Homo sapiens: one gene and its partner. The protein of the gene in region 2 purifies or fractionates together with the protein of the main gene of each other region. This does not show direct contact. Each region holds a gene or a part of one and is shown on either strand. Other genes may lie near its edges.

Region 1 (3,500 bases), on a different chromosome or scaffold from region 2:
CCCCGCTTGAGGGCCCTGTCCTCTAGCACGCGCAGGGTCCGGGTATACTCGGGGGGAAGCAGGTGGTTGAAGGAGCACAGCCCCTGGCCCAGCTTCACGTAGAGGCCCCCGTTGCTGATGGCCCCTGCCACCAGGGCATCAGCCGCCCGCTGGTGACACGCAGACATCACCTCCAAGTAGCCTGGGCTGTTCTGACCACAGGCATGGGGAGAACACATGGGGACAGGTGGCTGCCTCCTCAGTCCCACCCAGCCCACCACCTCATGCCCACCACTGTGTGCCCAGGGCACCAGGACAAACCTCTTCCACCCCTCGAAGGACAACATTGGTGCACCACCAGTAGTCCAGGGAGATCTGCAGGCCGACCTTCAGAGACCTGCGGGCAGAGGTGGCCTCAGTCTCCAGCGGGGCAGGCTCGGGGCCCCGGTGCTTGGTCCTCTTGTCAGAGCCCTCATGGTCTAGCCTCACCCCGGCCAGCCCTTCATGTCCCAAGGGTGAGGCCAAGCCAGGGTCCAGCCTACAGCCGCGTAGGCCTGTGTGAGCACAAGGGGTGCTGCTGAGCTCGTGGGGTGTCCTGTGGCCCTGCAGGTCAGTCTCAGCTCAAGATCAGTAGAACGGGGCCAGGTGTGGTGGCTCATGTCAATTATCCCATCACATTGGGAGGCTGTGCTGGGAGGATCACTTGAGCTCAGGAGTTCGAGACTGGCCTGGGCAACATGTTGAAACCCTGTCTCTACCAAAAATGCAAAAAAATTAGGCAGGCACGGTGGTGCACACCTGTGGTCCCAGCTCCTCAGGAAGCTGAGGCAGGAGGATCGTTTGAGCCTAGGAGGTGGAGACTGCAGTAAGCTGAGATTGCACCACTGCACCCCAGCCTGGGCAACAGAGCGAGACTCCGTCCAAAAAAGATCTGCAGAGCTGGGCACAGTGGCTCACGCCTGTAATCCCAGCACTTTGGGAGGCCGAGGTGAGTGGATCACCAGAGGTCAGGAGTTCAAGACCAGCCTGGCCAACATGGTGAAACCCCATTTCTACTTAAAATACAAAAAAATTAGCCGGGTGTGGTGGTGCACACCTGTAATCCCAGCTACTCGGGAGACTGAGGCAGGAGAATTGCTTGAACCCGAGAGGCAGAGGTTGCAGTGAGCCAAGATCGCGCCATTGCACTCCAGCCTGGGCAACAAGAGCGAAACTCGGTTTCAAAAAAAAAAAAAAGAGGCTGGGCTTGGTAGCTCACACCTATGATCCCAGCACTTTGGGAGGCCGAGGCGGGCAGATCACAAAGTCAAGAGATTGAGGCCATCCTGACCAACATGGTGAAACCTAGTCTCTACTAAAAATACAAAAATTAGCTGGGCATGGTGGTGCGTGCCTGTAGTGCCAGCTACTCAGGAGGCTGAGGCAGGAGAATCACTTGAAGTCAGGAGGCGGGTTTCGGTGAGCTAAAATTGCGCCACTGCACTCCAGCCTGGCGACAGAGCGAGACTCCGTCTCAAAAAACAAAAAAAGATCTGCAGAATGGGCAGCCTGTGTCCATGCCACCCTCACTCCCTGCCACCCTCAAGGGTGCCCAGGTGAGATGGGGTAGGGGACAGTATGGACGGTGGCATCCTCTGGAGAGATGGGGTTCCAAGGCTGTCTGTGAAGGTAAAGGATGGCAGCAAGGGGGCAGGGCTGAGGCAGCAGAGGTCACAGGAGGGTCAAGGTCACCTGCAGCCTGAGGTCCACTAGGAAGAGAGGAGGACACCAGGAGGGTGGGTCTCCAAGGCCTGGGGAGGCAAGGTCTGCAGGGAAGAGAGCCCAGTTAAGGCAGGAAGTGGGGGACATCCTGGGTATCTGTTGAGCAGGTACTGGGCTCCTGGGGGAGATTTAGGCAAGAGGATGGGGTAGAGGGGTGTCCCCAGGCCTGGCCCCAGTTAGGAGGATATCAGGGTGGGAGCCCTGGGAGAACTCTGGGGACCAGCTGGGCAGCCCTGGAATGAGGCGCCAGGCAGCGGGCAGACCACACACAGGTGCACAGGGAGGGGCTGAGGTCAGAGTGGCTTCTCCAAGGCTGGCCATGGCCAGAGGCCTGTCCCTGCGTTCTGTGAAGCTCACGTACCTGCCTGGGGACAGGGCCCACAGTCATTCCTGAAGCGCAGCTCTGGCGCTCAGGTGGACTCTGTGTCCCCCATCAACCCAGGGCGACCCCCCGGCCATTCAGGCCCCACTCTGGCCCCCGTAGAGCATCTGGAGTGCGTGCTTGGGTTAGGCCAGGGTTTCGGTTTCTTTTTTTTTTTTTTTGGAGACGGAGTCTCGCTCTGTCGCCCAGGCTGGAGTGTGGTGGCGATCTTGGCTCACTGCAGGCTCCGCCTCCCAGGTTCACGCCGTTCTCCTGCCTCAGCCTCCAGAGTAGCTGGGACTACAGGCGCCCAACACCACGCCCGGCTAATTTTTTTGTATTTTTAGTAGAGATGGGGTTTCACCGTGTTGGCCAGGATGGTCTCGATCTCCCGACCTCGTGATCCGCCCACCTTGGCCTCCCAAAGTGCTGGGATTACAGGCGTGAGCCACCGTGCCCGGCTCTAACTTTTCTACTATTAAAATTTGTTATAGTAAACACAACACTTTTGTAACAAAACTTAAAGATGTGAAAAAGTCCCACAGACTTGTGCTTGGGGGAGAAGGAATTTAATTTTTTTTTTTTTTTTGAGATGGAATCTCGCTCTGTCGCCCAGACTGGAGTGCAGTGGCACAGTCTAGGCTCACTGCAACCTCCGCCTCCCAGGTTCAAGCAATTCTCCCGCCTCAGCCTCCCGAGGAGCTGGGACTACAGGTGCCCACCACATGCCCAGCTAATTTTTCTATCTTTAGTAGAGATGGGGTTTCTCCACGTTGGTCAGGCTGGTCTCGAACTCCTGACCTCGTGATCCGCCCTCCTCGGCCTCCCAAAGCATTTTCACATTGCATTTCACATTGCCTCACAGAGCATTTTCAACATTGCTGTATGTTTGAAGTTTTTCACAAAATGTTGGAGGCCGGGTGTGGTGGCTCACACCTATAATCCCAGCACTTTGGGAGGCCAAGGCGGGCGGATCCCCTGAGGTCAGGAGTTCAAGACCAGTCTGACCAACACAGAGAAACCCGCCTCTACTAAAAAATACAAAATTAGCTGGGTGTGGTGGCGTGTGCCTGTAATCCCCAGCTACTAAGGAGGCTGAGGCAGGAGAATCGCTTGAATCCAGGAGGTGGAGGTTGCAGTGAGCGGAGATCCCACCATTGCACTCCAGCCTGGGCAACAAGAGTGAAACTCTGTCTCAAAAAAAAAAAAAAGTATCAATGAGTGCTAAACTGCTGGGTGGAGGCCAGGCGCAGTGGCTCATGCCTATAATCCCAGCACTTTGGGAGGCTGAGACAGATGGATCACTTAAGGTCAGGAATTCAAGACCAGCTTGGCCAACATGGAGAAACCCCATCTCTACTAAAAATTAAAAAAAAATTAGCTGGGTGTGGTGGCAGGT
Region 2 (3,500 bases):
TTCATTGAATCATGTCAATTATAAGCATTTCAGAAAGTTGAAACATAATATATTTTTGCTTGTAAAACACAATACAAACTCGCAACTACATGCACACCTACACAGACAGCTACCAAAATAACACGATTAACTCTTGGAGTCATAAGCCACTGTTCATTTATAACTTATTCCTCCACTTCATTCTCTACTAGCATTTGCAAAAGGGTATAAATAATAAAAAATGACCAGAGAAAATGTTCATCCCTTCATTCATTTTGAATGTGAATGACGTGAAACAGGTCATGGTTAGATCTGAGAAGCAGAGCACTCAGGCTCCCTGATTTCTGGATGTGTCTTCACTGCCTGCCAAGCACCATGCTGATGGCTTTGGTGGTTGGACTTGTGATTCAGATGAGTCTGGGTCTAATCCCAGCTCTGCCACACACATTGTGACAAGACCTGGGCAAGTCATCAAACAATCTAGGTTTCAAATGTCATTATTTATAAATGGGGATGTTAACCCTGTCTCCTAGGGTTAAATGGGCTTTATGACTAATGTTCCTGGCATGTAAACCATCTTAATCTTTATCACACACTGGAAGATATATATTGGTAGTATGTATTATACAACTTCTTTTTAAGAAGAGAAAACTGAGCCCTACATGAGTTACAAAACTGACCCTAGGTTACTCAGCTGCTATGAGCACACCCAGGCCCAAACCTCCTGTTCCAAATGCCTCGCCCTGGTTTGAGAACAGCATGTGTATTCCCCAAAGTGGGGTACATTGTATTTCCAGTCTTATTTGAAGACTATTAGCCTTGAAATATAAATAGTATCAGATGTACCCAAAAGCCAAAGGTGATGAGGAAGATATTAGAAGAGCTAGAAAATCACAATGATGAAATTAGAAAGCATCAGGCACATGGCCTCATTCATATCCATGCGAATCTCATGGATAACTGAAGATTTCTCTCCCAGCACACTTAGAGGAAGCTGGGAACCTACCTCCCAGGCATCCAAGAACGTTGCTTTTCCACCGATGGCATTACCTTTATCATCTTTGGGGAAAAGGTCATCCCCAGACTGTGAACACAGAATGAAAAGTTTACTGGAATCTGCATCAGGACACTTGGTTCTGTTCAACAAGGTTTCAGGATCCTGACTCTTGCTAAATACCACATCTGCATACCACTTTTTCAAGTTCTGGAGTACATACTTTAGGAATGTGAGTTTAATTAAAATCTCTGTATCTACTGTAGCATACTAATATTTTAGAAACGACTGGCTTGACTTTAAGATTTGCTGCTAGTACATTCCAGAAGTTCATTATCACCATGGACATTAACCTCATACACCTAGATCCCATATACAACCAAGGGCAAACTTTCATTTCAATATTACTGGATAAGGATTAGATATCCAAGCTGTGGTTTTCTGGAGAAGATATTGGCCAACTTCTATCCTTGCAGCCTCTAGAAGAGGCGTGGAATTAGGGGTGGCAGGCCATCATCACTCCAGTTGGTCAGGAGGGGAGAGAGCTGGAAATTTGTCTCTCCCACCCCTCAGGAGCAGGTAAGAGCAGAGCCCCAGGCAATGGGTGCCTGGATCACTACTGGCTTCCTTCCAGCATCACCATACTTGGGCTTTTCTCCAAGATGCCACTCCCAGGTGTACTTTGCTTAATAAGATAATTATGCCCTGGAATATAGTTATGCAAGAGTAACCCAAGAGATTTCCTGGGAGGGCAACCCTGGGGCGTGGAATCAAGACAAAGGTGATATGGCAGTTGCAACTTGTCTGGGCTGCCAGAAATCATGTCTTCTCTCAGACATAACTGCAAGAAAACCCAGGCATGTGGCCACCTCAGCAGCACACATGGCCTCAACCTCCCTTCCAGGCCAGTGTGTTTCTTCTCCAAGGTCTCTTCCTGACCACCTGCCATTCCCAATTATGAAATGCAAGGCCTCCTGCCCCAGTCCACACCACCCCACAGCCCTGGTGCAGCTACTATTTTCTGGCACCTGCTCAGAAACTAGAGGCTGAGAAAGAGAGTGTCTTAAACCTTGAATCCCTGTGGCCAGTGAATAAGATAGACGTCCAGATAGCTCAGCTTCAGGTCCTTGAGGGTCTTCTCAAAGGCTTTCCTCACAAGGGGTCTCTCAAAGAAAGTGGGCCACAACTGCAAAGAGTGTAGCAATGAGCTATTAATACTGGGAAAAGGAAGGGCCACATTGTACTCATTGTCCCTGCTTTTTGATTTGCATCCTCATCTAACCCACCACAAGCCATTTGTAACAAAGCTGATTAAGATCCACGACACAGTGTGGAACATCACCAGGGCTCAGCACCTCAATGACATGTCTTAAGTGTTAAAAGCAATTGACTTTTTCAACTGTCCTAGTACTCTATACGTGTCTCAGATCATTGAAGTAAATGTGGCCACAGATTTGAAATTTGTTTACCTGTCTCAGTCTCTTCCTCAGCTGTAGGCTCTCTGAGAGCAGGAATTGTGTGTAGCTTTTAAATGTCAAGCATTCTTAGGCCTTTGGGAGCAGATGGTCCTTTATCTGACCTATCTGATAGGTCCCTTATCAAGCCTATAAGGCCCCAAGTGATAATTTTACAAAGGCTTTATCCAGACTTGGCTGCTACACAGTGAGGTCTATTTGTCCTACCAGATGTATGCATTTTCCAAGTACCTAGAACTAGTGTTATTTTTTTTCAGCAAGTTATGTATAATATAGATCCAGTGATTCTCAGCCCTCTCACACCCAACATCTTCTTCTTTTTTATAACATTGTATCCCTCACCTTTTACTAGAATGAATAAAGAAATTCATATGTGACAATAGAAAAATGCCCCTACCATTTTCTAAAATTCCCCCTGGCTGAGAGTCTCAGGGGCACAGTCACTGAGATCACAGTGCTGAAAGGGAGGCTTCAGATCAAGACCCGCCTGCACCCTTGGCCTCTGATTGCCTCTGGGCAGATGGTAGATCCCTCTGATGGGGAACAGGGAGGCCCAGGGCAGTGCAGGGTTCCATGGAACCAAGCCCACTATGGGAAAACCAACCTACAGGCAGGTGGGGCAGCCACGACATGTTCAAATATCAATAATGGCTTGGAGTATGGATAGTGTTGTATTCACGGATGTTATCAAGGCAGAGATGAAAAGGGGTACATGTAGAAAAGGCTGACAGAGTTCTTGCTGCCAACCCGACCCAGATACTTCTGCCTGCCTTGAAGTGAAGGCCTCCCACCAAATGCACCATTGCACCTTGCTGACGATGAACAGGTCCTCCCGCTTCACAGCCTTCTCTTGGATCTTCTCTTGGATGGCTTCCCCCACTTCATGTTCATTCTGATAGACATAGGCACAGTCAATGTGCCGATATCCTGCATCAATGGCCACCTTCACTGCTTCTTTCACTTTGCCAAGAGGAGACTGAAAGGCAAAAGAAAAGCTCATCACATATGTGTTTTTTTTAAGAGATGGGGCCCTGCCGTGTTGCCCAGGCTGG

Evidence for each region. Proteins that work in one complex are often made in the same cells at the same time.
Region 1: the proteins of AKR1B10 (region 2) and ADCK5 purify together in Homo sapiens (co-immunoprecipitation; one large-scale study listed by IntAct). This does not show direct contact.

What each region holds. Positions count from the first base shown.
Region 1 is NC_000008.11:144,387,547-144,391,046, reverse strand, and holds part of ADCK5 (uncharacterized aarF domain-containing protein kinase 5), read right to left. Parts: intron 1,785-3,500; exon of another isoform or gene 1,711-1,784; intron 377-1,710; coding exon 301-376; intron 192-300; coding exon 1-191. UniProt on the Homo sapiens protein: The function of this protein is not yet clear. It is not known if it has protein kinase activity and what type of substrate it would phosphorylate (Ser, Thr or Tyr).
Region 2 is NC_000007.14:134,530,567-134,534,066, reverse strand, and holds part of AKR1B10 (aldo-keto reductase family 1 member B10), read right to left. Parts: intron 3,425-3,500; coding exon 3,257-3,424; intron 2,160-3,256; coding exon 2,043-2,159; intron 1,064-2,042; coding exon 986-1,063; intron 1-985. UniProt on the Homo sapiens protein: Catalyzes the NADPH-dependent reduction of a wide variety of carbonyl-containing compounds to their corresponding alcohols. Displays strong enzymatic activity toward all-trans-retinal, 9-cis-retinal, and 13-cis-retinal.